Regions from separate parts of the Homo sapiens genome. Here all the other regions are reported to be linked to region 2. Evidence: microRNA targets listed by miRTarBase, many of them from high-throughput screens and not tested one by one. Region 2 holds a microRNA gene; each other region holds the end of a gene's coding sequence.

What was found. Region 2 holds the annotated microRNA hsa-miR-4293 (CAGCCUGACAGGAACAG, at 6,821-6,837, opposite strand). A microRNA usually pairs through its seed, bases 2 to 8, with sites in the 3' UTR of a target mRNA and lowers its output. Matches are read on the target gene's strand: a 7mer-m8 pairs with bases 2 to 8, a 7mer-A1 pairs with bases 2 to 7 and ends in A, and an 8mer does both.
Region 1: the mRNA of TRIM44 is a reported target of hsa-miR-4293. The part of its 3' UTR that is shown has no 7-base or 8-base seed match.
Region 3: miRTarBase lists AP3B2 as a target of hsa-miR-4293. The part of its 3' UTR that is shown has no 7-base or 8-base seed match.

What each region holds. Positions count from the first base shown.
Region 1 is chr11:35,803,130-35,813,565 of GRCh38, forward strand. It overlaps TRIM44 (tripartite motif containing 44), which reads left to right. Exons shown (of 5, transcript NM_017583.6): 5 at 3,229-10,436. The coding sequence ends at 3,256. Among named protein-coding and RNA genes, the nearest start is that of LDLRAD3, 140 kb to the right of the region's middle.
Region 2 is chr10:14,376,390-14,386,825 of GRCh38, forward strand. It overlaps MIR4293 (microRNA 4293), which reads right to left and starts at 6,888; the gene lies at 6,811-6,888.
Region 3 is chr15:82,651,416-82,661,851 of GRCh38, forward strand. It overlaps AP3B2 (adaptor related protein complex 3 subunit beta 2), which reads right to left. Exons shown (of 27, transcript NM_001278512.2): 25 at 10,410-10,436; 26 at 8,430-8,568; 27 at 7,866-8,295. The coding sequence ends at 8,145. All of the region lies in intron 3 of CPEB1-AS1 (CPEB1 antisense RNA 1), which reads left to right. Among named protein-coding and RNA genes, the nearest start is that of CPEB1-AS1, 8.9 kb to the left of the region's middle.

The DNA.
Region 1 (10,436 bases), not on the chromosome of region 2:
AGATCCCACAGTTTATTAGTTAATAACAGGCATTTGAACCTAGTTCAGTCTGGTGACACAAAAGTAATTATGTAATGCTGCCTCTCTCATTGGTAAGTACCTGCTATAGAACGTGCTGTCTGCCTAACACCCTTAGTTTATTTAAAAAAAAAAAAAAAAATGAAACAGCCATTAACCTCTGAGTCCCACTCCAGTTGTAAGTCTAAGTGTGACTGGCAGGTGTTTCAGAGGAGCATGATAAGTGGCTGAGGTAGAAGGCTGTATTACTTCCCTTGCAGAAAGTGAAGACTTTTATAGACTAAGATAAAAATCTCATGAACAGTCAGGCATGGTGGCTCATGCCTGTAATCCAGCACTTTGGGAGACTGGGGCAGGCGGAATCACAAGGTCAGGAGTTCAAGGCCAACGTGGTGAAACTCCAGCTCTACTAAAAATACAAAAATTAGCTGGGCATGGTGGCATGCACCTGTAATCCCAGCTACTCAGGAGGCTGAGGCAGGAGAATCGCTTGAACCCGGGAGGCGGAGATTACAGTGAGCGAAGATCGCACTGATGCACTCCAGCCTGGGTGATAGAGCAAGACTCCATCTCAAATATAAATAAATAAAATGAGATAACCTCATGAACATAGATGAGCTTATATACAAAGTTTATATACAAAGTGAAGCAAGAACATTCAGGAGAGGAGATGATGCCTCACACTAATTATATTGTTGAACCCTCCAGGAGAGACGACATACAAGCTGAGCAAAGCTCTGTGTTATAGATTCAGTTATGATCCCTTTTCTTTTTCATTATTGTGAGAAGTGGGTTATTATAAAAATAAGATGCTTTCTTTGAAGGTACTGTTCTGGGAAGAAAAAAAAAAAAAAAAGGTTCTTCCTCCCTCCCCTGAGCCTGTATCTCACCTACTAGGCTTTAAAGTCCTAGAGGGCAACTCCCGTGTTCATCTTATTCATTTTTGTTTCTAGCATCATGACTTACACATGGTTGACAGTCAACAAATATTTAGCAAATGAAGTAATCAATAAATGATATGCCAGTATCCTAAGATCTCATGTTTTAAACTGTGAGATAAATTTCAGGCCCAAGAACACGTCTCTTTTAGGTTAACGAGAAAAGATTTTATCAGTTCAGACTTCAGACCTTTTCCCCAAGCCACTCTCCAAATATTATAGTAAAGAACCTGGCAACCAAAAAGAGTTTATTTATAATTTGGTTATTCCCAATTTGGCAAGAGAGTTGTTGACTTCTTTGAAAATATGATGAAAAGTATGTCTTCTCTCAGACAAAGGAACACACAGATAAAATTCTGTATACAATTTCATTAGGTCCATGAACGTTTAAACTATGTCTCACGTTAAGAATGCTAAAAAGTGAACTGCAGCTTAGGGCAGAGTCACCATGCTGCCCTCATATTTGAAATAAAACTGACAAGAGAACAATGAGAGCTTGCTTTGGATGTAATACCAAAGGGGGAGAATATGACGCCAGTTCCAGCTCTGCCTTGATTCTGGTGAGAAGCTTTCATAAAAGACCCTGTGTTCCCTTTGGGACAGATGCCATTAAATACTGCTTCTTAATGACAGCCCACTGTCCAGCATTTCCAGCATGCACCCTTCATCCCATGATTGTATAACCAGCAGGAAAGGGGAGTGGAAACAGGGCAGAGTTTGGAATGGTGAAGATTATTGAGTTGGTTCTTTTGGCTCCTAGCATACACTTAACTTGCAGGACCTGTTTCTTGAAATGTTTCTGCCCTTAGTGGAAGTTCTAGAAATTTGCTGCCTAGGATATTTTCCCTTAAAGTCTTTCCCAGATGGATGCAAAAGAGCACAGGTTTTATATAGACATAGATAATCCCTTGTGAGATGAAAAATTTCTAGGTAATAGCTGGGAGCTGATGTTCTACAGGCCTTTTCCTTTTCTACCAGCTTGACCACTTCAGACTTTATCCAACTGAAACTAAACCTTGAGTTTTAAGGACACAGACCTTACTATGTGACCCTAGGATTTTACATCTCTTAGAGCTTCACTTTTTTCATCTGGAAAACGGGGGATAATAATAGCCCCTACATAATAGGAAGAATGGGTGAGTAACACGTAATTCAGTGCCCCGGTCCACAGTAAGCACTTGCTCAAGCTGGCTCTTGTTACTATTTTAAGGGCAGTGACCTATAGAAGAGGATGGGGAGAAACTAGGCAAGTTTGCTACGTTTGCTTTTCTGAGTGTGCTCATTCCTGCATTTTCAGGCTCTACCTTCTCCTTGCCCCAGTCCCTGTACCAACAGTGTTCTCTCCCAGGTCCAAGCCAGAGGGGCTGTAACTCTGAGCAGCTGAGGTACTAGCCATGCCTGAGGGACTTGACAACTATTTGACCACTGAAACATCACTAACATCTGGAATAACCTGGCCAGGGCAGTAATGACTGACCAGTCCCTTCAACTGTGTCCATCCCTCCCTCCCTTTCTTCCTGTTGTTTGTATTTCACTTCCTTTTAAAAACCAATTATTTATTGAGCACCTCTATGTGCCCAGCCCAGTGCTAGTGCTAGATATACATAGTTAATAAAGTGTTGCTATTCTTATATGCTGTAGTCATGGGTAGAGAGAAGAGTAAATCGTAAACAAATAAATTATGTAATGTGATAAGGCCTATGACAGACATAAGATAGAGAATCACCAGGGAGTCCTACTTAGTAGAGTACCTTCTCTGACGAGGTGGCATATGTCCCTATGGCATGAGTTGAAATCTTGGATTTTTTTTCCAAGTGCAGAGTGCCATTGAGAGTGCAGATGGTAGTAGCTTCTCCTTGTTTTTTCTCTCCTAACAGTAGATGGCTTAAGGCTTAGAGGAAATCATACACCTGATTTTTACCAGCAATTTATTTTGTCAGTTAAGTTTAAAAGAATTATGACTCTCACCTGCTCCTTTAAATAGCTGCTCACGTACTGTATACCAGGTACTGTGCATTTTATATGTATTCTCTTATTTAATCCTCTAGTAACTCAAGAAAGTAAGTTTTATCATCATTCCCCCTATGGCCAGATAAAGAAATCAGAATTTAGAGAAACGAAGTAACTTGCCTTTGGCCATATTGCTCAATCATGGTAGTTAAGACTTAATTCCAGGTATGTCTGACATAAAGTCTGTGCTATCAACCAGTAGACTAGGCTGCCTCCCTTCTTGTGATATCTTAACTCACCTGGTTCTCCTTTTCCTTTGTAGTGGTGCCAGTGAAGAAGAGGACACATGAAGGCTTGCTACCCCCAGTGGAAAATCATCCCCTCCCCTTGTGTGTATGTGACAGCGTGTATGTAACGGCTTCTGATTTCTGTGAAAGCTGCTCAGCAACAAACGTACTTCCACCAGATGTGTCCCCAGATCCACAGCAGGCACATATCTCTCCAAGGGATGACCAGTTTTATGCTTACTGTGTGCTTCTCATCCCCTGGTTGTGGTAGGTCAAGGAAAAGAGCCCCTTTGATCCACCAGGAGCAATTAAGAAAGGTCCTTCAGGTAATCCCTCAATGGCTGCTTTGAACTTACTCAGGAAAGCCAGCCCCCATAATATTGTATTACCAAACAGTATCGCTTTGTTAGGAAGGATCTGGAATAATCTTGAAGGGAAGTCAGAGTTTTCTCCCTGCCTATTAACAAAAACCCAATTTTGTTCATATTGAAGCATGAAATAAATGAGAGCAAGGTAGGGCCAAATTAACTCTTGTGGACAGTCCCTAAAAGTCCAGTTCTACATTTGTGAAAATTGTGGTGCCATGAATTAAGATGGATGACTGGAAAAAGGTGTTGGAGAAAGAGTTAAAGATGAGGAAGAGATATTTTTAGTATATGAAGTTATCCAGGACTTGATATTCATAATTCAGTGCTGTGGAAATGAAAAAAATGATTGAAGAGGTGGAACGGAAATGACCTTAGGGGGAAAAAAAAGGACCAAAGAAGTCTGATTAAAAGTTGAAATCAGTATTTCTGAATTCAAATTGCTTGAATTTCCAAAATAGTCAGTAAAGGATCTAATAGAACCAGAATTATTTGGGTGAATTCTGCAGGTTTTATGGGCTTGTCACAACGTGAAGGGCTGGAATGTATATTACCAAATGGGAATTTCCATTGTAGGTTTTTGCTAGTCCCACCCCCATTTTAGCCTAATTTGGCTTAAACGCAGTATGGGGAGAATTGTTCCCATTCCATGTGTTCTGAATTCAGCTCATCTCCCAGCATATAGATATATCCTCCTTTAACTCCGACCAGAACCCTTCTTCCTGTGGCACTCCCCACCCATAGACCTTCAGATCATCTCCCACACCCTGGATCTCACTCTCCTCTTAGTAACAGAGACACTCCTGAGGTTGGACTTCCTTGCTTTTCTCTACTTCCAAATCACAATTTCTTACAACCAAGCTTTGTGCTCCCGAGTAAGCAGGGATGTACTAGGGGAATGTAAAACTGCAAACTTAAAAACCTGCATCTTCTTGAAGCATCAGTTTTACTTACCAAATGGTTTAGAGTCATAAGATGACCTATTTTTATATAAAAGTTATATTATAGAATAAAATGTTCATACGCATAGACTGTTAAGATAAAAAAATAGGAATCTTGCAAGGTAATTCTTATTTGCAAGTGGGTTATGTGTTCACTCTCCTCTACCTTTATGGTATTTTGGTGTTCACTTACGAAGCATACAACTAGAACCATATCCAAGCAGACTCTGGGTTGCTGTTAACCCAGGGCCTAGACTTCTAGTGCCTCTGAGGCAGAACCAAAGGAGCCTGCACTGGGGGAAATCCCTTTTCCTGCCTGCCTGTCTGCCTGTGACCTGTGTACGTATTACAGGCTTTAGGACCAGCTGATTGTTATGCTTGCAGGATGGTTTTGAAACAGAAACAATACTTGTTTACTGTAGGAATCCTATTTATATTATTTTTCAGTCCTGTGAATGCTGTGAAAAGATTTATTCCTTTGAGGCCAGGAAGCTCCCAGGCATATATGCTTCTAGGTTAGGATTGTCCTGACTCACTAAAGATGCCAGGATATTGGGGCTGAGGGGAGTTTGAGGTGTTAAAAAAAAAAAAAAAAAAGCATTTTTCTCTCAAACTGATGGCCAAGAAATGGCTAGGACAATTTTGGTGCTTTACCTATCTCTGCAAAGACTGGAGAATTTGGCATACCATTAATTACAACCACCAATCATATCCAACAAAAGTACCCTAAAAGAAGGACCAGTGGCCACTCTCGAAAAAATTTAAGTATCAGAAGATTAAAAAGATTTTAGGATTTGGAAGCTTGTATTGTCTTTCCCCAATAATCATTGTTTGATCTCCAAATAGTAGCCTTATATTAGCAATAGACAGATCATTGGTTCTCCATATCTGATCATATGTTACTACTTTGAATCAGTATTTGGGAAATTCAAGCATTTATGCAGTGGATATAAATGGAAATATAAAAATATTTGCCAACCTGTCTCAGTAACTTATCATATCTCTGTGATCCTCAAGGAAAGCACTTTTGCTTTTACTTAGAAAGCGTTTCAGATTTGCTTTATAGACTCCTGCTGTCTTCAGTACCTGATAAAACTTTAACCAGGGAAGCATTAAACACAGTGCAGCAGCTTTTGCCCAGGCTTCTAAGTTCCTGCCGGCAGCATTTATCAATGTAAGAACTAGGATGCTTCCTGCAGTGGCACTACCTTCCCCTAGAGCTGGAGCATGCTGCTTGGCCTTAAGCCCCAGCATGATGAGGCTTCCCTCCTGCCAGGTCAGTAAAAGTTAGAGAGCTCAGAATTGGGTCTTGCCTGGGTGCAGGTGGCAGGGTTTGCTGAAACCCCTAAAGAGAAGTCACCAAGGGAGGCAGGTAATGAATGTTTCCAGAATCAGTCGGATACTCATAGCAATTTCTGGCTATCTTTCAAATGTTGAATTTCTGGATGCTGAGAGGGACTTTGATTTGATATCATTAAATCCAGGACAGTCCCAAGAAGTGCTTGGAGTCTCGGCTCTGACAGCCCAAGAAGGGAAATAACTTGTATTAAGGAACAACTATGAGCCAGGCCCTGAGCTGTCTCTTAGATAATAAAACAGATGGGGAGTGGAAGAGTCATTTGCTTCAAGTTATACAGCTAGGAAATACTCAAGCCAAATCTTGAACGCAGCTCCCCCTAATTCTGTGGACAGGCACTTTGTACCACACACCATGGTCCACCTAAAAACAGAAGGATAAAAAGACTTCAGGTTTTCCCACTGTGTGCTGACCATCCCAATTTATGAATCTTCTTCAAAATGACATTTCACAGTTATAGTTAGGGCTCAGAAATGGCATTGAGGTAGCCTTATTTCTCCCCTTTAGCAGATGCTTTAAGTACACATTGCTGACTTGAGCCCACCCCCAGGAGTTAGGAGAACATTTCCTTTTTCATGCCATCTTCCATAAATAAGGTGTTTCTTGGCCTTCAAAGATATAGAACTTTGCAGCAGTAGTAAAAGTGAAGGGTGTTCTGCTCTCTACTCAACTTTATTTGAAAATGTCTGCAGCTTCACTCCTGTAGAAAAGGAAATCTTCATATTTTAGTAAACTTAGCCGCCAGTGTACTCTGTGAGGATGTGGCAATTCAAAGTCCAGTGAATCTGGACTCTCTTACTGATTCCTGGTTTTAGTGTGTGTGTCGGGGGAGTGTGTACCTATATATAAAGGACAAGTGTGATATGTGTGTATATGTATATACATACATACATGTCCGCACACACACACACAATATTTGAGAGCTAAGGAAAACTCAAAGCAGCCCCTTCATTATCTTGCGTACTACTTCAAAGATTTCTGTCAGCCCTAATTACAAGTGTCACCATATAGTTGGGGCTTAGGTACTTGCTTACAGGAAGAGCAATTCCCTAGCAAAGGTCATTAGCTCCTAAGGCACTGAGTCAAAGTGACAGCCCTGAAGGAAATTGCACTCCAGCCCTCCTCCAGGATGTCTAATAAGATGGGAAACTTGGATGCCCAGCCATTTTGGTGACCTGAGAGTCTAACTACTCCAGTTAGACCTAAGGGCACAAATGCAGAATTCATGACCTTGTAGTTGTGGCAGGGTCTAGGAAGTCCTCTCTCCCCAAGTAGAAAATATTCTCTTGCCATTCCTGAAATTCCACATTCATATAATGGCTGTGCAATACATGCTTCTCAATAAGAAAATTAACTGCACGTTTACTGTGTGCTGATCACATCAGATTTTTATGTTTAAAAAAATCTCATTATGGATTGAGTCCAGCCCAGCTCTAAGAGAAAAAGAAGGCCCATATGGGAGACTTCAGTCTCATTATTATTGCCTTTATCCAGCAGTGCTTATGAAGCCCCCTACCCTGTCCCATTCCAGAAACCATAAGACTCAGGCAGTTCTTGATTCTGGAGGCCTGCCTGGTAAGATAAGATAGTATAATTTGGAACTGAGAACATACCAGAAACAGCAGAACGAGGGCCAGAGCAGAAAAATGAAAATAAGTGGAGACACTTATGGATACATTGGTGCAAAAAAAGCCACGGAGCCCATACTGGGCTTGATATGACTTTGAGGGGACAGCAGATTAATACTTAATGAGGGTTAAACCTGACCAGTCTTTCTACAGTGACAGGCCACACTGCATGAATGGGGAGAACCAATGAATCCATTGTCCTCTGCCTATTTTCCTGTGCACAGTCACATTCCCTCCTTAGGAATCTTCCCCTTCCACCCTTTACATTAAACAAGGGAACACTGAATCTTTCAAGGGAATTACACGTTTGGGTTAATGTTTCAGTATATCATTTTCATACTGTAAATTATTTTGTAAGAGAGATTTACTGCTATCCCAGGATGTTCGGACTTGGTGCCCCTGTGCATTTGGAAATCAATAAACTATTACTGGAAATGCCATTTGTCTCTCAGAGTTGTGCACAAAGGACCCTGCAAGGTGTAAATATTTATGACGAGCTGCATACTTGACTGTGGTAATGCTGGAGATGATGGTGTTTTGGTTACTAGATGTGGGAGTCTAATTTACTCCTGACTTTTCCACAGTGCCTTAGGAGAGAGCTCTGGGAAGTGGCAAAAGAACAGACTTAAGATCATTATTATTTAGTGATAAGTTTTCTCCTCAAAGTAAAATGATCCAGGCCTAGATTACATTTTATGAGCAACTTAGATTATAACCTAAAGAATACTTGGTGCCAAATTATGTTTTCAAATAACATTAAAGTTTTAGAATTTGGATGAACTAGAAGGAAGGTAAAATTGTAATTTTTGCCATATTTTCTAGAAAAAAAAATGTCTTTTAGAGCAAATTACAGTTAGGCCAACAAAATCTTTGTTTTGTGAAACTTTAGAAATACATATTTGCATGTAATTGATGAAAACATAGAATGAGTTGTAAATGAAGCAATTCCAAGCTGGTTTGAAGGACCAGAGGTTGCATTGAAATCAGAAGTCATATACTCAGAGGCCTTCAGGAGCCAAATGTGAAGACTCAAGATGGTAGATACTGTGTGAATTAGAAAATACCAAGCCCTGCCTAAATGCATTAAAATTTAATGTTTAAAAATCCTAAAACCCACCAGCAGGTGTATCTGGAGGGACAGTTTGTGGACTCTCCTCTAAATTTTCTTTTAACACATTTATCTTCATCAGACCCTTTTAGTTAGCTAGGGACTGTGTGAGAACCTTGAGAAAATTGTCCAAGAGAGGGAGATAAGTCACTCAAGGTCACCCAACAAGCCAGGCTGGTAAAGCCCAGGACAGCAGACTCTCTGTCTCCGAGAGCAATCATTAGGCCCTACTTCCTCTTCCCCAGTTGCGGAGGACACTGCTGCCTGGTGGGGTGGCACTGCCTGCCACTGTAGCACTTAGGAGTCTTCAGTGTTTTAACAAACCACAATGTGTTTGGAGGTTTTCTTCCCTGCTTCCTGGTGCCAGTATCTCAACACCACATCCATTGCCCCAGCCCTTTCTTGTTTTATCTTTCCCTCTGAAAGCTACAACTCTATATTTTATTTTATTACTCTTTGTTTGGTCCAACATGGCCCCATTTCCTTTATACTCATAAAAAGGTAGAATTTCAGCTTGTCTGGAATATCTCCTGGCCTTCACAAGGCACCAGAGTTAGAGACACCCAACAGAAAGTCGTAATAAGAGAAGATGTCACAGAAATAGAAACAAAAGCAAAAGACTGCTTGAAGTCAGTAACAGACTGCACTAAGTGTCTGTGCTTGTTAACTATTGTAATCTCCAGGTTTAAATCATTCATTTATGTTAATAAGAGCTGTCACTTAGCTCTTTCTCTGGGCCAGGTACTCTCCTGTTGTTTTTCACATTATCATAATAGTAACAGCACCAATACTATCATTCCCCACTTTGTTGCTCAGGAATCAAATTTAGAGAATTAAGTACTGTGACCACGGTTACACCCTAATAAGCGGGAAGCCAGAATTTAAACCCAGGTCTAGCAGACTTCACAGCCTCTTTCCTTAATCTCTTCTCTCCTAGCTGCACTGATTCCATCTTGTATTGGTGAATAACAACACTGATCCCCCTACAACTACCCCCACACATGTACAGTATGGCCTTGGGGCAAAGGAGTTTGCCTTTTGCAAAGAAGGTCTTGCTTTGTATAGCCTGTAAAATGCAATGTACAGTGAGGGAAAGAAAGTCTAAGGGTAGCAGTCAAATCTTCTGGCCTGAAACTGTACTTTTGGAAGGGAGAACTGTTAGACTTGCTTTATCTTCTTTATTCCAAGGCCATAAATAAGAAAATCAACGAGAGGCAAAACCATGTCTTCTTTTGCTATAGCGTTAGAATCCTGAAAGTCAGCCAGCTCTGACACTGAGTCTGTGATTTAATTAAACATGTTGAAGGCTCTCCAACAGCTTGACGTCAGGCCAGCTTCATATTCTTGGAAAGGGACAACAGCAAAAGGAGCTTATCTGTTTTAAAGTTCACTTACTGAGTTCAGCTGTCACGGCCACAGCATACCATTTGCCTTATAAAAATGGCCCACAACCTTCACAATATTTTAGGATTCATGGCAACTCATTTACCTAGGGCTTAGCCACCTGATAGCTTTACCTATCCCTATTTCCTGAACACAAAATCTAAACCAGTGGTTTGACAATGAGTAACTGAGACAGAACTAGAAAAATCTAGAACCTCTGCTGAACCCATCAAAAGTGACTGAGAATTAAGAAGTAAGCAAACAAGGCTTCCAACCAATTGAAATAAATACCATGAAGCAAACGCATAAGACAAAGGCCATACATCTAGTCATCAGGCACCTCCTCAGAACCTATTTGCTCTTCCTTCACACATATTTCTAACTGTAAAGGAAAGAAACAGACTTTTAGAGGAAACAAGAAGGAAAAAGGAGGACAGCAATAGAGAAAATGGAAATTTTGA
Region 2 (10,436 bases):
GGGAACCAGAGTGGCCGTGGTGGCTCATGCTTGTAATCCCAGCACTTTGGGAGGCCGAGGCGGGTGGATCACATGAGGTCGGGAGTTCGAGACCAGTCTGACCAACATGGAGAAGCCCCATCTCTACTAAAAATACAAAATTAGCCGGGTGTGGTGGCACATCCCTGTAATCCCTGCTACTCAGGAGGCTGAGAGAGGAGAATCGCTTGAACCCGGGAGGCAGAGGTTGTGGTAAGCCGAGATCGTGCCATTGCACTCCAGCCTGGGCAACAAGAGCGAAACTCCGTCTCAAAAAAAAAACAAAAGGGTGGGGGTGGGGGAACCAGAGACATCCCTATTGTGATGGTTAATTTGAGTGTCATCTTGATTGGATTGAAGGATACAAAGTATTGTTCCTGGGTGTGTCTGAGAGGGTGTTGCCAAAGGAGATTAACATTTGAGTCAGCGGACTGGGAGAGGCAGATCCACCTTCAATCCGGGAGGGCACCATCGAATCAGCTGCCAGCACAGCTAGGATAAAAGCGGACAGAGGAACGTGGAAGCACTAGACTGGCTGAGTCTTCCAGTCTTCATCTTTCTCCTGTGCTGGATGCTTCCTGCCCTCAAACATTGGACTCCAAGTTCTTCAGCTTTTGGACTCTTGGGCTTACACCAGTGGTTTGCCAGGGGCTCTCGGGCCTTCGGCCACAGACTGAAGGCTGCACTGTCGGCTTCCCTACTTTTGAGGTTTTGGGACTCGGACTGGCTTCCTTGCTCCTCAGCTTGCAGATGGTCTATTGTGGGACTTCACCTTGTGATCACGTGAGTCAATACTCCTTAATAAACTCCCTTTCATATATGCATTTATACTATTAGTCCTGTCCCTCTAGAGAATCCTAATACACCTGTCTTCAAAAAAAGCAGCTCTAGAAGTTTGATGACTCCCCACAATTGCAGGCTCCTCAGTCTGCAAACATGCTCTTTCACCGGCTGCCCCTGCTTGTTTCTCCAGCTCGTTTCCAGCCATTTTCTCATGTGCATTCTCCACCCCAGCCATGCCTGCTACCAGGACCACTGGAATATTCTGAACCTCTTCCCCCTCGCTTCCTGTTTATCTGTAATGTCTCAATCCAAACTTCTTCTCCTGGCTGCACTGAATTTTTAGTCCGGAATAAGTTACATTCCTTCTCTGATGTACAGTTGTCCTGGACAAAATGCTATTAAAGTTTCTTTTTTTTTTTTTTTACTTTGCTTTAATTGTGCATTTTATTTAAATTGTTTATTTTCTTGTCTGTCTCTCCCACTAGGCTATGCTCTTTTAGGGCATGTCAATGTCAGAGGCCTTTTAACCAGAGCAACTTTATCTTGAATAGGGGCTGGGTAAGGTAAGGCTGAGACCTGCTGGTCTGCATTCCCAGGCATTAGGCATTCTAAGTCACAGAATGAGATAGGAGGTCGGCACAAGACACAGGTCCTAAAAACCTTGCAGTAAAGAAGTTAACCAATCCCACCAAAACCAAGATGGCAACAAGAGTGACCTGGTCATCCTCACTGCTTATTATATGCTAATTATAATGCATTAGCATAGTAAAAGACACTCCCACCAACTCCGTGACAGTTTACAGATGCCACGGCAACAGTGAGGAAGTTCCCCTATATAGTCTAAAAAGGGGAGGAAACCTCAGCTCTAGAAATTGCCCATGATTTCTGGAAAACGCATGAATAATCCACCCCCTGTTTAGCATAACATCAAGAAATAACTATAAGTATCCTTAGTCCAGCAGCCCAAGCTGCTGCTCTGCCTGTGGAATAGCCATTTCTAATTCTTTACTTTCTTCATTAACTTGTTTTCACTTTACTTTATGGACTCATTCCAAATTCTTTCTTGCACCAGATCCTGGAACCCTCTCCTGGGGTCTGGATTAGGACCCCTTTCCAGTAACATTAATATTTTATTCATTTTCTGCCCATAGCCTTGCACAGTGTCCGGCACAAGTAGGCAATCAATAAAAATTTTGTTCAATAAATAAGAGCTCTGTGACATGAGCTCATTATTTGTTCCCTTGTGTAGATGAGGTAGACCCACAGCCAGGTTTGACTTCTTGCACTCTTACCAAGCAATCGAAGGGCTCATTTCCTGATGTGCATAAAAGCTAGTACCACGGCACCAGCTTTTGAGAAAAGAAAAGCTTTATTGGAAGTTAACTAGAAAGGAGACCAAAGGAAATGCTCAAATCTGTCTCCTTGAGCTTGGGGCTGTGGGGTTTTATAAGCATAGGGTAATAAGGCAAGATCTGATTGGGTCTTGCAATGACATGATGCTGGGAAGGCATGATCTGATTGGATCTTGCCATGGAGTGACACAAGGGCTCAATCTGATTGGATCTTGGATCCTGTCATGTGGTGTCCGCTTCTTAATTCAGTCCTGCTAATCTGTCAAAACACTTAGGTTCCGCCTGTGGTTGGATGCTTGGTCCATCTGCACACGCACAGGGTATGTGACCTTCAACCTGGGGGCAGCCCATGGCAACTGAAAAACAACTGACAACTTTGTTACATAAAAGCCGAGCCAGATTGGTCTGGTATAGTTACAGCATTACTTAAAGCATGTGTCCAAGCATGAGGGGTTCTGGGTCCCTGTTCAGTGACAGGTGACACTGTTGCTCCAGTAGCCTCTTCATTTCCTTCCTCCTGTGTCTTCACAATAAAAGACACTGTGTATTCATTCTAGGCCCATCGATTCTAACACAAGTTAATCTTTTCAATGCCTTGTGATCTTAACTCTAAGAAAAGCATCCATAATCTAAATACAAACAGGTCCCCCGCCTGCTCTGCACCTGCAAAAACTATCCCAATGGCATCACAGCTATCAGAGGAGGTGGGCTTTGCCCTGAGCATAGCACAAAGAGCCTCTTCTATCATCTCGTCGGCCTCCATCTCCTCCCTTCCCACAAGCCCTTGAACCCAAGGCTAGCCAGGTCCCTGGCCACCACTTTACCCGCAGAAGGTGAGAGGGACACCAGCCACCAGGTCCCAATTTAGAAAGAGAAAGGAAAGGAGTAGAACTGCTCTGCATACAAAAGTAGGGCACATTTGAGATTCTTTTGTGGAGAGAAACAATTAAGAAGCTGCAAAATGGGGGAGAGGAGGAGAGCTGGGAGAAGGTCACAGGGAGGAGAGAGAAGCTTGAGAAAATTGCACTAGGTAAGCCATGGCCGATGAACAATTGGGAATGATGCAGGGAATGCTTTTGAAAGACAGTCGTCTTACTATCCCAGCCTTATGCCATAGTTAGCACTGTACTCGAATTCCATGCCGTGACTGCAAATACTCCAGCAAGTGGTACAATGCAGCAGCCCAACATTAGTGCTTCTTATGGGGATGAGGAGACACAGGGGTCACTGCCTGGCAACCTTGGCAGGGAAGGAAGACAGCTGCCCCAGGAGCAAGGGCCAGGAGCAGCTGCATTCTGTGAACCTGTACCAAACTGCCTTTGTGGTTGAACAAGAAGACATGGCATTGAGAAACCGTATTCTCAAAAATTACAGACCTCCTGACAGTTTCCTCTTCAAAATCCTATCAGTAAGAATGGAAGATCCCATTCCTACCTGAAATATCTGGGGTCTCTTTGACACAGAGAAGCAGCCTAGATTTCCAAGGCAGGTGCAGTGCTTCAGATAAGGAGTTTGGAAGCACAATATTCTACATTTCTCTTAACCCTGTAGTTTCCAAGGAAACGGAGCCCTGAGTCAGCTCCCCAGCTCAGCCTGATGTTAATTACACACAGCCCTGCTTTGCGCTCATCAAAACACTGCTTCATTTGAATTTTAGCTAAATCCCATCGTTTCCCCAAATCCTAGAATAACCTCCTGCTTGCTTTGTTTGATAAGGCCCTCTATGGCTTTCTGGGGGCACTTGCCCTTTTTGCAACATGGTATTAATAAACTTTGGCCGGGTGCAGTGGCTCATACCTGTAATCCCAGCACTTTGGGAGGCCGAGGTGGGTGGATCACCTGAGATCAGGAGTTCGAGACCAGCCTGGCCAACATGGTGAAACCCCATCTCTACTAAAAAAATAAAATAAATTAGCTGGGCGTGGTCGTGCACACCAGTAATCCCAGCTACGCTGGAGGCTGATGCATGAGAATCACTTGAACCTGGGAGGCGGAGGTTTCAGTGAGCCAAGATCGCACTGCTGCACTCAGCCTGAGCGACAGAGCAAGATTCCATCTTAATAATAATAATAAACTTCATTCTGGAAAGTGCATGTTTATTTCTGGTCTCTATTATTTCAGATGGGCCAAGGAATGTCTGTCATCCCTGAACTTGTGAGATACTGTGGAAGGTGAGACATGATCCCCTAAATTGTAAGAGTTAGAGATCTCTGGGCAATGTGGAGATCTGAAAAATATTAATAATGCAAAGGCAGGTAGCACAGTAGGAAAGTAGGAAACAACCAGGAGTTTCAGAGTGAGAAAGTCCCAGGTAAAATTCCAGCTCCCTGACTTACTAGTGGGGTGTTACCTAACCTGTCTACACTTCTGTCATCTTTATCCTGGGCTGTTGCCAGGATTCGATGAGATAATGTGTGTTAAATGCCTTTCATTGTGCCTGTCATATATTAACCACTCCACATTGTTAATTATTACTATTTGTAAAATATGAGTGGAGATGAATAAGGAATGGAAAGAATTGTGAAAACATTAAGAGACAAACATCAGCTCTGCTGATGTTGTAGGACTGAGTGATTTTCTTTGGTATCCTACAATATTGCTTTCCTTTCCGCCCTGTATTTCCTTTTTCTCCTGGGCATGCAGCGAGACCACAGGCCTACTGCTTCTCCCAGTTTCCCTGTCTTGGGTAAATGGCAACTCCATTCTTCCAGGTCCTCAGATCAAATAACCTGGCATCAGCCTTGATCTCTTATCTCCTATCTCCCATCCAAAATATGGTAAACCCTGTTGGCTCTTCCTTCAACTTATCTCCAAAATTCTACCCCTTGTCACCACCTTCACTGCTACATCCTCAAACCAAGTTTCACCTTGGTTATTGAAACTGCATCCTAACTAGGCTTCCTGATTCCACCATTACTGCCTTATATTCACCCTCCACTCAGCAGCAGGAAGATCCTTCCAATATGTAAACACCCTCTTAGGCTTAGTATCCTCCAGTGACTCCCACTAAATCCTTACAATAGCTTACGAGGTCCTACACAATCTGGCCCAGATCACCTGTCTGAACTCATCTCTCCCATCTCCTCTTCCTCATGACCCTACACCAGCCATACCTGCCTCTTGGCTATTCTGGAAATGCTAAGAATGCTCTCACCTCAGGGCTTTTGCACTTGCTGTTCCCTCTGCTTGGAGCACTCTTCCTCCAGATCTCCATATGGCTTCTTTCCTCACTTGCTTCAAGCCTATGCTCAAGTGTCACCTTGTTGGAGATAATTCCCTGACCACTATGCATGCACACATGCACGCACACACACACACACACACACATACACACACAGAGTAATTCCCCCCATAGCATCTATTGGCCATGGACATACAACACATTTACACATTTACTTTTCTGTATGTTTCTTTCTTTTCTCTGCCACCAGAAAAAAAAGGTTCCACTTGATCAGGAACTTACTCTGTTTTGTTCACTGCTCTGTCTCCAGCACGTGAAACAGAGTGGCATAAAGCAGATGTTCAATTAACATGTATTTAATGAACTGAATGAAGTCACAGGTTTTAAGGAGTGTTAATTCCCATGCACGCCTGAGTAAGAGAAACAATCTCACTTTTCCTTTTGATCACATGAAAGAAACAATAGAAAAACAATAAGTGGTTTCCCCCCAGCTGTAACAGCGCCAGGGACTTCCCACCTGCTGCTTCTGCTTAGAAAAGCAGTGGTGTTTGAAGAATTCTTGGAGGTTATGAGCTCACGTGTCTGTGTTCTGACACATACACCCCCACACGCCCTTGCACACTGCAGTACAGAAGGAAACCCTACTGAGAGAGGTAGGCAGTCTATGTCCAGGCTGTAGAAACAGTGGCTGCCATCACTGCTATGTTACGGACCCTAAATTAGCTTATTTCATGACCCCACAGAGTTACACTGATTGTTTTCACACAGTGTTTCTCAAAGAGTGGGCCAGAGCAGCAGCAGCAGCAGCATCTGCAAACTTGCTGGACATTTGAATTCTTCAACCCATCCCAGATCCACTGAATAGAAGCTTTGCAGGGCTCAGCCCAGTGCTCTGTGTTTTAACGGGTCCTTTGGGTGTTCTGATGCAGTGAAGTTTGAGAACTTCTGCTTCAGTGGACAAACAAGAATGTCTGGGAGGAAGAAAAAGTACCAAAAAAAACTGACAAAATTTTTTAAATGCCATGTAAAGGCTGAGTGCAGTAGCTCATGCCTGTAATCCCAGTACTTTGGGAGGAGGAGGCAAGAGGATTGCTTGAGCCCAGGAGTTTGAGACCAGCCTGGGCAACATAGGGAGAGTCTATCTCTACAAAACAATTAAAAAGTTAGCCAGGCATGGTGGCGTGTGTCTGTAGTCCCAGCTACTTGGGAGGCTGAGGTGGGAGGATCACTTGAGACCAGGAGATGGAGGCTGCAGTGAGCCATGATCCTATCACAGCACTCTAGTCTAGGCAACAGAGCAAGACCCTGTCTCCAAAAATAAATAAATAAATAATAAAATGGCCATGTTAATCCTAATACTGAGTTCTAGCTTTACTTATCAAGCTGTGTGAAACTGAAATAAGGACATCAGGGTGAGGGAACTGGCTCTCTCGGGAGAGGGGAAATCCTATTTCTTCTTCATCACTGACCGCTTGCTTCAGTCAGGCTGTTCCTGTCAGGCTGGTGTGAAATGAATTAGCAATGTCACCAGCTTCCCAAGGAACAGGTGTCTCTGCCATACCTCCGGCAACCAATATCACGACTTTCACTAATTGCTCTGCCCTTGTCAGGCCCTTTGAGGACTAAGTGGGCCCTGGAGATGGAGTGACCCTTTACCTGCTCAGAGCTGCCTTTAATCCCAACCACATGCCCCCACCCCACTGGAGCCCCGGAGCATGGGAAATATGGAGCACCACAGTAGCAATGCAGAAGCATGAGTCACTGCTGAAGCTTGTGGGAGGAAAAATAGAATTCAGGCCTTCTGCTCTAATTACACTTGATTGTTGCCCGTTGTGAACAAGGACTTTTAGGGTTGACGGTATCCTCACCATCGGCCCACTCTGTTGGCGGGACCCAGGAGCTGGTATTGCTGGAGAAATTCACACAGAAGGGGAATCACTTCTTCTTAAAATGAAAATTTGGGCCAGGCTCAGTGTCTCATGCCTGTAATGAGAGCATTTTGGGAGGCTGTGGTGGGTGGATCACATGAGGCCAGGAGTTCGAGACCAGCCTGGCCAACATGGTGAAACCCCGTCTCTACTAAAAAACAAAAATTAGCTGGGCACGGTAGTGCATGTCTGTAATCCCAGCCACTGGGGAGGCTGAGGCAGGAGAATTGCTTGAACCCAGGAGGCAGAAGTTGCAGTGAGCCAAGACTGTGCCACTGTACTCCAGCCTGGGCAACAGAGTGAGACTCTGTCTCAAAAAAAAAAAGAAAGAAAGAAAGAAAGAAATATAAAGAAAATTGGCTCATGTCACTCCTCTGCTTGACTGACATCTGGATTGATTGACAATGCCTTTCCATTGAGCTTAGAATAAAATCTCAAACCCCTCAATGACAGTAAAAAAAAAAAAAAATTTTAATTATGAGCAAGAGACTTGAATAGACATTTCTCCCAAGAAGACACACAAATACCCATTAAGCACGTGGAGAGAGGCTCAATATCTCTAACCATTAGAGAAATGCAAATCAAAACCACAGACTTCACATCCACTGGGATGCTATTATGAAACCCACACATTCAGAAACTTATGAGTGTTGGCAAAGATGTGAAGAAGCTGGAAGACTTGTGAACAGCTAGTGGAAATGTAAAATGGTGCAATCACTGTGGAAAACTGTATGGCAGTTCCTCAAAAACTGAAACATACAATTACCATAGGATCCAGCAGTTCCATTCCTGGATATAGTCTTAAATGGAAAGCAATGACTCAAACAGGTATTTGTACACCCATGTTCATTGCAGCATTATTCACAATAGCCAAGAGATGGAAACACCTAAAATGTCTATCACTGGATGAATCAACCCCAAATGTCATATATCCACACAATGGAGTATTATTCAGCCTAAAAAAGAAAAGAAAATTCTAACACATGCTACAACAGGGATGAATCTTGAAGACATTACGCTAAGTGAAATAAGCCAGACCTAAAAGGACAAAAATTGTATGATTCCTCTTTTGAGGTTCGCAGAGTAGCCAAATTCAGAGAAACAGAAAGTAGAATAGAGGTTACCAGGGGCTGCAGGGAGAGAGGAATGGGGAGTTAGTGTTTTAATGGGTACAGAGTTGCAGTTTGAGATGATGAGAAAGTTATGGAGATAGCCGGTGGTGATGGTTGCACTATAATGTTAACATACTTAGTGCCACTTAAACATAATTAAGATGGTAACTTTGGTATTATGTATATTTTTCAACAATAAGAAGTTTTCAAATCCCAAACCCCTCTCTTATATGGCCCCTTCTCATTTGTCCACCACTCTCTGACATTTCTTGATCTCTTGCTTCTGTGCTTCAGATATCCTGTTTTTATTTCAGTTCCTCAAAAAGGCCAAACTCGTTCTCAACCTCAGAGCCTTTGCACTATCACTTCCTCTGTGGGGAACATTTTTCTCTCTATTCTTTACAAGGATAAATCCTTTTGATGTTTTGTATGTGTGGCAGAGACTACCTAGACGCTCACACCAAGCTGTTTCCTCTTCCTCCTGGGCATACGTGTCTCACTGGGCATACCTGTTCTTCCTGGGCTACACCTGACTTCCCAGCCTCCCTTGCAGTTAAGTGTGTCCAGTGATGGTGAGAAAGAAAATCACCAGCATCACTGCAGGCTTTCTACCCATTCTGGAGAAAACCCTGATGCAGAAGGGCAAGGGGATTATGGAAGGGAAATGTTAAAAACTGAGGAGCCACAGATGGCTGGGGCCAGGGTCCCTGAATCACTGCATGGAAGAGAGGCACCTGCTGATCAAGCCATGTTCATTTTGGATTGTATGTGGGTGGAAAGAAAAAAACTTGTCTTTGAGCCATGACACATTTTGGGGTGTTTCTATTATGCTTAAAACAGCTAGTCTTTCTGTAATACGAACCCCAAAGAGGGGTCTTCTCTGACCATCAATGTCAAATATCTTGCCCCTGTCCATCATTCCCTGCCCCTTTATGTTGTTTCTTATCCTAGCTTCATAGTTTGTAACTTGTTTATTCATTTTAATACATTGATTTTGGAACGTTTTCCCCTCTAGATGGCAACCTTCTTTGATACACAAACTGTATATCTTGTTTGTCACTGCATTTCCCTAACATGCCCAACACGAGCTCAATAAACGTTTATTGCATGAAGGAATCAAGATCTGAATTTCAGCCTGGTCGCCAGTGGTGCTTGTCCATTCTGTTAGACTCTCCACTGCACTCCTGCCATTTCATATAATATGCCTTTAGTCACAGTCCCTTCACTGATGGCCTCAGAGCTATTTGAAACCTGTGCACATTCTGGTTAAACCTTTCATCACAGTATTTGGTGATGCTGCAATGAATGCGGAATGCTGGTCTGTCCCCCACAGACTGAGTCTTTCTAGGGTGTATTGGCATTCCTAGTGTCTAACAGGTAGTAGGCTGGCAAATGAATCAATGAGCCGGTGAATTAATGAATTTATCTCAAGAATTTGAGACTGATCCTATCTCAATTCAGAGGCAGAGCACAGAATGCAACATCATCAAAGATTGACACGTTCCTTGTCTAGACAAGTGCTGCGAGTCACCACAGCCTGCGCGTAGTCTGGTTGGGAAAGAGCCCTGGCTGGGCTGCAGGAGATGTGAACTCAGAGCCTGCCCAGCTCACTGTGCTCTGGCAAGCTACATTCTCTTTCCCTGACTCAATTATCTTACCCATAAAACGTGGCATTTGGGCTAAACAATACTGAAACTGTGTTAACCTTACAGTGACATTACTTAAACCCTGGCAGTCAAAGAGAAAGTAGAAAACGATGCTTTATATCTGTGTTGTCTCATTCAGAAGCCACTAACCACATGTGGCTACCTAGCACTTGAAAGGTGGCCCGTCCAAATTCAGATGTGTTGTAAGCACAAAACGCACACTAGACTTCAAAGATTTAGTATAAAAAATGTACATTTCTCGTTAAAAATTTTTATACTGATTTCATGTGGAAATAATATTCTGGATATATTAGGTTAAATGAAATACCCTATTAATCATTTCGCCCATTTCTGTTTACTTTTCTTAAATGTGACTACTAGAAATTCTAAAATTACACATGTGAGTTGCATTTTGG
Region 3 (10,436 bases), not on the chromosome of region 2:
AGGTGGAGTCTTGCTCTGTCGCCCAGGCTGGAGTGCAGTGGCACGATCTCGGCTCACTGCAATCTCAGCCTCCCGGGTTCAAGCAATTCTTCTGCCTCAGCCTCCAGAGTAGCTGGGATTACAGACACCTGCCACCGCACCCGGCTAATTTTTGTATTTTTAGTGGAGACGGGGTTTCACCATGTTGCCCAGGCTGGTCTCGAACTCCTGACCTCGTGATCCGCCCGCCTCGGCCTCCCAAAGTGTTGGGATTAGGCGTGAGCCACCGCCCAGCTAAAGATATTGTTTAAAGCTTGAAAAGACAAGCCATAGACTGGAAGAAGGTATCTCCAATCCATGTATTTACAAAGAACTAGTTTCCAGACTATGTAAGAAGTTCTGTAATCAATGAGGAAAAAACACAACTCCACAGAAAAATGGGCAAAAGATGAGAATGGGCAGTTGACACAAGTGAAAATCCAAATGGCCAAGAAACATCAGTAGATGCCCACCCTCATCAGTAACCAGGGAAATGCAAATGAAACCACAATCAGATGCCGTGCCACACTTTTCAAATGGAAAAAAATGATCAACTTTCACTGTCCCAGTAGCAGGATCACTGCTAGTGAGGGCGTAAACTGATTCAGCTACTTTGGTGTGTGCTTTTATGTTTCATATCTTTTAATGGAGAGAAGGCAATGCATAGAGTGCACAAATCTTTTTTATTTATTTATTTATTTATTTATTTATTTTGAGATGGAGTCTCGCTCTGTCGCCCAGGCTGGAGTGCAGTGGCGAGATCTCGGCTCATTGAAAGCTCTGCCTCCTGGGTTCATGCCATTCTCCTGCCTCAGCCTCCTGAGTAGCTGGGACTACAGGCGCCCGCCACCACGCCCGGCTAATTTTTTGTATTTTTAGTAGAGACGGGGTTTCACCCTGTTAGCCAGGATGGTCTGGATCTCTTGACCTTGTGATCCACCTGTCTTGGCCTCCCAAAGTGCTGGGATTACAGGCGTGAGCCACCACGCCCGGCCACAGTACACAAATCTTAAGTGTATACCGAGGTAACCACCACCCGCATGGAGGCATAGAATCTCTCCAGAACCCCCACTGGGTTCCTTCCTGCCCCTTCCCACTTTATACCTCCCTCCTCAAGGTACCGTTACCTTACTGCTTTTCATTACAGATTCATTTAACCTGTTCTAGACTTCATATAATTTTTGGTTTCTTTCATTCAACATACCTGTTAGATCCATCCATGTTGTTGGCATGTAGGAGTAGTTTGTTCCTTTGTATTGCTAAGTAGTATTCCATTGTGTAGATACACCATAATTTATTTCTGCATTCTCCTATTGATTGGAATTTGAATTCTTTCCACTTCGGGGACTATTATGAATAAAGCTGCTAGAAATATTATTGATGTGAAGTATAGCAACTCTGGTGAGCAATTTGGATTCTCTAGTTAACTTGAAAAAGTGTATACTCTATGACCCAGCAATTCCATTCCTAGGAAAATATGTTAGAGAAACTTTCATACGTGTTAAGAAACATGAGTAAAAATGTCTGTAGCTGTTTTGTTAATAGTTACAAAAACAAAACAAAATAAAATAATCTTAAATGCCCACCAACAGGAGAGTGGATCAATAAATTATGGTATAGTCATACAATGGAATTCTATATATAAGTAAAAGTAAATGAAATACAGCAGATCACATCAACATGACTTACAAACAATATTGAGTGAAAAAGCAGGATGTAGGAGAAAACATACTCTCAGATGCCATTTATATAAAATTTGAAAACGTGTAGTACGCACCACCATCACAAAGTATGGTACTATATATTGTTTAGGAACACGTCTATCTATAGTAAAAGTACAAAAAAAAGGATGTTATTGATAAACAGAAAATTCAGAATGATTTGCTTCAGGTGGGAAAGGAAGCAGTCATGAAATGAGGGGTGTGGGGGACATTGGATTGATGAGCACTGAACTGATGAGTGCTTCAGTTCTCAAGTTGGATGATTAGTATACAGGTGGTTATGATAGTCTCTAAACTTGAAATACATAATAATATTTTAAAGAGACAGAGATGGGGATAATTAAGGGCCGTGATGTGCTGGTAAATGTTTGACAATTGGCTGGGGGAGGGAAGTGATTTGTAGCATTTGTCTCTTTCCATGGCATAAAAACTCCCACCACGGCTGATTTCAAATTGTCAGTGTGACATCATCTGGCTCACAAAATTCCTGAATGTGTAATAACAGTCAGCCCTCATGAGCCAGGAGAAGCCAACTCAGGCACACCACTCAGACACTGAATGTGGGAGCAGAGTGCTCTGAAGGCCAGACTCAGGGATCCAGGCTCCCTGAGGGCTTTCCCAACAACCTAGGAGATGGGTGGAAGGCTGGATTGTATTATTTATTTATTGCTATTAAGTTACCCCTAAAGCTAAGCAGCTTAAAACAACAAATATTTATTATCTTGCACAATTTCTGGGAGTCAGGAATCAGAGAATGGCTTAGCTGGCTGGTTCTGGCTCAGAATCTCTCATGAGTTTGTAGTCATGATGTCAGCCAGAACTGCAGTCACTTGAAGCTCTGCCTTGGGCTGGAAGATCAGCTTCCAAGCTCACTCAAGTGGGTGCCGGCAAAAGCCTCAGTTCCTTGTCACATGGACCTCTCCATATTGCTGCTCAAGACATGGTAGCTGGCTTGAGAGGGAGGAAGAGAACAACCAAGATGGAGGTTCAAAGAATTTTATAACCTAATCTGAGAAATGACATACCATCATTTGTATCCTATTATTCACATAACACCAACATTGATAATATGTGGGAGGGAATGACACAAGGATACAGATATCAGGTAGCAAAGATCATTGGGGAGTATCTTGGAGGTTGAAGGTGAGTGCTGGTTGTCCTGAGATGCTTGTAATGGGTTAGTGGATGCCCAGAGACATGGGAATCAGAGAGGCCATCCCCTTTGTTTTGCAGCTGGGGAAATTGAGACATTCAGAGATTTACTCGAGAGTATGCAGCTTTTCTTGGTGAGGGTCAGGAGTCCAGGGTCTTGGTCTTGCCTTGGTACCCATGAGAAACACCAACCCCACCTCTCCCTCCCTGACTTCCCTCTGAAGGTACAGATGCTGAGGTCTTAGCACATCCAAGGTCAAAGTCACCTTGCCCAAGCTCTCAAGAATTCCTCTTCCTCCATAGGTGTTTCCTTACATTCTTCACAGCCAAAACAAGACAACCCTCCTATTTCCACATACCCTGCCCCTCCCACAGAGGCTGTTGTTAACACATCCCTAATAGCCCCAAAGAGAAGCATCTGCCACTGTGTTGGCATTGCTGGACACAAATCCATGTTGGCCTTCTGAAATCCCACTGCCACTTGGAGCCTGGTGTCAAACTGTTTCAGGACTCTGTAATCTCTCAGCAAAATGAAACACTGCCCCAAACTGGAAGCAGACATGAGGAAGTTGTGCTGCCACGCTTTTTCTTGCTGGATGCTGTTTACATGGGTTATTCAGTCTATGAAAACGCATCAAGTTGAGCACTTGTGATCTGTACAATTTTATGTAGGAATACTATACTTAAATATTCATAAATTTATAAATTATATGTTTACAGATTCATAAATTTAAATACTGAAACTTTAGATTTTTAAAAAAATATATTTCCAAAGCCAGGGGCGTAATGTATTTGGGGCCTGGATAGAGAGAAGCATTCTTTCTGTTCTCCAGATGCCATAGGGAAGCGAAGCCTCAGTGACACCATAGCATCTTCTGCAGCAAGGGGGCAGTTGGTAATGGGAAAATAATGGGGGTTCCCAAAGGTCAGGATCAAAAAGTTCAGCCCTAAGTGCTTTCTTCTAGACAGGTCAGTGGGATTGGGGATGCAGGGAGAGAGACTGGGGTCAAACCAGAGCCATCAAGTCAAAGACCCAAAAAGGTATATACTGCTTCTTTTCCTTGAGGATACGCCACTTTTAATCCTTATTCTCCATATCCCAACCTGGGCTCCACCCTCCCAGGGACCAATTCACCATCCTTCTCTTGACTCTGGGAGCCAAAAGACCAGGTGGTGACAGAAGGAAGACTCAGGCTGAGGTCCTCGGGTGGGTCAGAATTTTCCAGTTTTCCCTTTCCTTTCCAAGCCAGGACAGGGAAAGTCCTCCCACTTTGAGTTCCACCCTCAACACCCATCCTTTTGATGTGGAAGATACACTATTGGGAGGTGACTGTCAAGATGCCAAGCAGAATAGGCTGAACTAGTGCAGGGGTTTGCCTTAGTCACCAGACAGATGGGAGTTCAAGCATGGGCACAGCTAATGTCGCAACTCCAGGGTCCTTGTAGTGGCTTCCTTGGTATCTCTAAATGGATCTATTCCCCCGGGTCACCAGCCACTGCAGCTAGCCAGGTGATGCAGCCTGGCTGGAAACGAGCTGTCTCTCTTGCCCATTTGCCTGGGCATTGTTTTGAAGCCATCCTGGACTAGACTCCAGTTCCCAGCCCCTCTCTGAGCTCATTGTCCTCTGACCCATCAAGGCCTGTGGTCAGGCTCAGACCTAGATCCCCACTGATGCACTACCCCATCCTTGTCACTGCCTCTGTGCCAGTCCCTGTGCTTCTATCCACTTCCAGGCCACTTTCGGCCCTTCCTTTGCACCAGCAGAGTCCTAAGAGTGCTTCCCAGTCCGTCCTGTGGTCCTGGGCCCCACCTGAATCCCACAGCCCTGGGCTAGTTCCCTGGTTGTCCCATCAAAACTATTCATGACTGGCCAGCCATGGTGGTTCATGCCTATAATCCTAGCACTTGGGAGGCCGAGGCAGGTGTTTTGCCTGAGCTCAGGAGTTTCAGACAAGCCTGGCCAACATGGCAAAACCCCATCTCTACTAAAAATACAAAAAATTAGGCTGAGTGCAGTGTCTCACGCCTATAATCCCAGCACTTTGGGAGGCCAAGGCAGGCAGATCACGAGTCAGGAGTTCGAGACCAGCCTGACCAACATGGCGAAACCCCGTCTCTACTAAAAATATAAAAATTAGCCAAACGTGGTGGCACACGCCTGTAATCCCTAATCCCAGCTACTCAGGAGGCTGAGGCACGAGAATTGCTTGAACCCAGGAGGCGGAGGTTGCAGTGAGCGGAGATTGTGCCACCGCACTCCAACCTGGGCAACAGAGCAAGACTCTGTCTCCCAAAAAAAAAGAAAAAAAAAAAAAGGCTGTTCATGGGAAGCATTTTCCCTGCCAACTGAGATCCAGACACTCTGTGACCAGGCCCCTAATAACCTGGGGACAAAGTGTCACCACAGTGGCAAAGACTTGGGCCAGTGATAAAATACAGAATACGATATGGGTTGGGGAAAATGCCCCCGGGGGATGTGGGGGCCCCCAGCCCCTGCAGGTCTGACCTGCTTCCACCTGTGTGTGCTGGGCAGGCCCCCATCTTATCCCTGCACACTCGCTCAGGTATGCTCATGTGGTAGGGTTGTGGGAGGTATGGCCTTGGAAGAGATGGGCTGGGCTGGAACGAGAGCTGGGGCAACCACTCCCCCTTCCTCTGTGACTGAGATTCTCTCACTCCAGACCGTTCACTCAGCACAGAACAGGCCCCATGCTCCTCCTGGGTGGGAAATTGCTGCCCCACCAATCTCCCAGCCCAGCCTTCACCAGCAGCACACCACTCCCCGCTGGGCTCCTTCTGCAGTCATACTCTCCCCTGCCCACACCTTGCTCTCCTGCTTCCTGCCTCTCTCTTTGGTCAAACACCAGAACCATTTCCTTATGAAGAGTTGCTACTGCTAATGCCAAAGCCTGGGACACATTCCAGAGACACCAACACAGAGCCGTGAAGGTTCCAACTCTCTGGACTCTCAGGGTTGGAAATCCCAGTGCCCTTTCCAAGAGGTTCTGGGAACCTGGACTGTACTTGAGGAATGTTGTGGGACTTGCCTTTTGCACTTCTGGTTCCTACAGAATCCCATTTTTTTAAAAGGGGATTTTTTTTTAGAGGTAGGGTCTTGCTAGGTTGTCCAGGATAGAGTGCTATTCACAGGTGTAATAATAGTGCAATACAGCCCTGAACTCCTGGCCTCAAGCAGTTCTCCAGTCTCAGCCTTCTGAGTAGCTGGGACTACAGACACATGCCCAGCTCTACTCTGGGGCTTTTGATATAGAATAAAGGTGGGTAAGGGATTCTCTGATGGTCCTTGTTCAAATTTCTTAGAAAATCACCCTCACCCTCTCTCAGTGCTGTGGGTAGTGCTGATTCAGAGGCAAAAGTAAGACTGAATCTTACTTTTGACTGGAGGACCATCTCAGAATCTGCAGTGACAAAAACAGTGATCCCAGGGAGACTTTGGGGCCCCAGGCTCTCAGGGAAGCAGCAGCTCCAGCAGCTCTCTGGTGTCACAGTGCCCAGCAAGTCCCTGGAGCCAGAGGCAGGGCTGTCCCCTGGCACTGCCTTTGTTCTCCTTCTGTGAGAGGACAGCCACACCTGCTTCACCCCATCTTACCCATGAACAGACATGCTCAGGGATGCCTAAGTGGCAGGGCTGAGGGACAGTATGGCCAAGGGCCTAAAGTCTTGGTCACAGAGGATCAGAGGCTGAGGTTCAACATCTCAAACTAACTGGAGTGTGTTCCTTGTAACCCAGTCAATCAAGATGTTGTGAGGAAAGTGTTCCAAAATCAAAACCAAGTTTGAGTAACACTGCAGGCTGAGAGGTGGTCACAGTGTACATTAGCATAGTAAAAGTTCTGAGAAGACCTGTAGGAAATGAACTTATTTCACTTAAATCCAAGATTCCTAAACTTATTTGATCATAGACTTTGCAGGGGGCGGGAGGGTACAGAACACATCCTAATGGAACACCTTTTATACGTTTTAGAACCACTGCTCACTCAGCCTCTTTCTTCACCAGAAAAGGTGTCAGGGAGAGCCCTGACCCCCACTGCACCCACCAGGTTTGTTCCAGGTGTGAGCAGATGCTGGTGTCTTGTTACAAATACAGAATCTGCTGCTCTGCCTATGGAGTCGCCATTCTGTTGTTTCTTAATAAATTTGCTTTCACATTATTATTATTATTGTTATTATTATCTTGAGACAGAGTCTCACCCTGTCGTCCAGGCTAGAGTGTAATGGCACGATCTCAGCTCACTGCAACCTCTGCCTCCTGGGTTCAAGCGATTCTCCTGCCTCAGCCTCCCAAGTAGCTGGGATTACAGGTGCGCACCACCATGCCCAGCTAATTTTTTGTATCTTTAGTACAGATGGGATTTCGCCATGTTGGCCATGTTGGTCTTGACCTCGTGATTGGCCCACCTCAGCCTCCCAAAGTGCTGGGATTACAGGTGTGAGCCACCACGCCCGGCTGCTTTCACTTAAAAAAAAAATGCAGAATTTCAGACCCCACCCTAGACCTACTAATAGAATCTGCATGTGATGGGATCCCCAGGTGACTTGCCACAAAGTGGTTTGAGAAGTACAGTTATGCATCTTCTATTCTTCCACTAAGATGACCAGTGGGTCAGTACCCCAGCCAGGTGGGGCCTCCAGGCCCCCTAACTGGAGTAGTTGACATATGTTGAACTGAGCACCTGTGTTTGGGGAAGTCCCCATGTTATGAGTCCTTCCTTCCCAAGGGACCGTAAGAAGAACTAAGGGGGTCTGCCAGCCATTGAAGAGGACTTGTTTTTGCAGAGGCTATAAAAAGGACCAAGGTGCTCTTCCAGCTCTGCCTTGCCACCCCAGCCCAGATGTCTCTTCCACAGAGATGCCTGCAGACTCCTAGGCATCCTGACCCAGAGATGGTTACCTTGGGGATTCAACAAGAGTTGTTCCTGACAAACCCCTAGAAGGAAAGGTGAGCCAGCAGCTAGAGAGAAGACATTTTATTGAGCCTGCTACATAAATAGCTACAGAAATCTGGGAGGACTGAAGGGAGTGGCTGCCATCTCTCTCTGCACAGATCACTAAGGAATCCATGGGGAGGGCATTAGGGGAGGGCTTGGTCCTCCAGAGGGAGAGAGGACACCCTGAATGCTATCTGGCATGAGGAGGATGATGAGAGAGAGAGAGAAAGATGAGAGAGACTGACAGCCTAGGTGTCATGGGGAGGTATAGATGGGAGCCAAACAGGTCACAGCATTTGGAAGTCACTGGGTCAGAGCCTGTATCACATCCTTTACCAGCATGGTGCCAATCACCATTTTCTCGCTGTTGACAGTCAGCTGGGCAGCTCCAGCTGGCCGGGCATCCAGGGTCAGCAGAACGAGGCTTCCACCAGTCAGTGTCCTCCCTGCAAACCTGAGGTGGGAATAGAAGGGGTGAGGAAGAGCTGCTAAGGGTGACTGTGTTTGGAAGGGGATCAGCAGCTGGGGCTCCTCCTTCAAACCAGGGCCCCCATGCTCATCATTTCCCCTCTACTGGTGGCCTAGTACCTGTACTCATCAGATGTCCCACAAGGAACACGACCCAGGTTGGCAGTGGCAGTCACTTTCTGCACCACAATGTGGTCACTCCGACAGGTGTCTGGCAGCATGAGTTTCTCTGTGATCTCATTCATGCCCATCAGCTTTCCTGGGGGTAGAGGTCGTGATGAGGGCAGAGGCCATGGTGGGTACAGAGGCCAGCACCTGGGTCTGCTTACTGAGCAACAAGTTCTCCCAGGCTGGGAAGGTATCATGCAAAGGGCAGGTCAGAATTTAAATCATCAGTCTTGGGGAGAAGGTACTTCCCTCTCAGACTGGGCCCTCCCTCAGGAAGCCTTTGTCAGCCTCTCTACCCCTCCCACCCAGGCCTTTATCCATGTTGTTACCAAAGACTGATTTGGCGCTTCCTCCATCAGACATCTGGGCTACCAGCCCCTTGAGAGTGGCCAGTCAGTTCTTAAGAGGTTCGCCCATCCTGAACCTCACACCCTTTGATCTTTCCTGGGGGGCCCTCCAACCCACATTCAACTCCCACTCAGCTCCTGGAAGCTAAGCCCTCACAAAAAGATCACAGGTGGCTGCTGTGATCTCTCAGCCAGAATCCAGTAGTCACATGCAGCATTCACAGGTACATTTTTAATTGTACCTCTGCAGTAGCAGCTCCAGACCTAGCCAGGGCTCCTGAAGCCTCCAAACCTTCACAGCACCCCCAGAACTCCTCATTCTGCAAGGCTGACTTCTCTCCACTCACATGATCCAGGCCCCCCATGGGAGCTCCTCCGTCTGCTCTCCTGCACACCAGCAGTCTTCTCTTCAGCCTCTTTCCTCCCTCCACTGCTTCCCCTATTCTTCACCTCCTTTTAGAAACTGACATCCCTCTCCTGTTTCTTCTATCCCCTTCATTCATGACTAATAACATTTTCTTGTTTTTGTTCCTTCAATCTGTTCATGTTCAAGTGTCCCCGTCTCCAAAAAATCCTTTCCAGAAGTGAGATCCTTCATCGTGCCAATGCCCTGTCTCCCTCCTCATTCATGGCTAAAGTCCTCCAAAGAGGACTGCATGTACTTGAGCCGTGGTCTCCCTCAACCCACTGCAGTTGGCCTCTGTCCCTCCTTTAGCAATGACCCTCTCTCCCTCAGGTTGGCAGTAGCCTTTTATATGCTGACTCTGAAGGTCTTAGGTAACTGTGGTTTGCAGACACCTTCTGCCTTGTTGTCTCTCCTGGTTCTCCTCCCACCTCTCCCTGTGCTCCTTCTCTTATCCCTCCCCTCCTCTTTCTTCTGCAGAATTCAGGTTTTCCCCCAAGGTTCTGTCCTTGGCCTTCCTATTTTCTCCCACCTCCCAGAGTGATCTCATTCATATTCACAGCTTCCATTACCACCTCTATGTTCATGACTCCAGCTTCAAAGTGTTTCCTGGGCATAGACCCATATTTTCAGTTGCATACTAAATAGCTCCTCCTGAATTTCCCAAATGCATTTCAAAATCAGCTTATCCAAAACTAACCATGATCTTCCCTCCTCCCTTGCCCAAGCCACTCTTCTTTCTTCTAGGCCAGAGGTTTTGCAAATTACAGCCTCCAGACCAAATCCAGCCCACCACCTATATGGCCCACAATGTTTTTAATATTTTTTAAGTGTTGGGGGAGCAATCAAAAGATTAATATTTCATGACACATGAAAATTACATGAAATTTAAACTTCAGTATCTATAAATATAAATGGAAATTTCTTGGAACACAGCCATACTCGTTCATTTACATACTGTCTGTGGATGTTTCTATGTTTCAACAGCCACAGTCGTGTTGTAACTGCAACAGAGACCACATGATTCTCAAAGCCTAAAACATTTATCTTTGGCCCGTTACAGAAAGTTTGCTGACCCCTGGTCTAGATGAAGGACACCACCATTCTCCCTACCATCCAAGCTGGACATTCTGGAGTCAGCTTCTATACTTCCCTCTCTGCCCACTCCCAGGGAGCACTCACCCTGTTCCTTCTTAAACTCATTTTCAC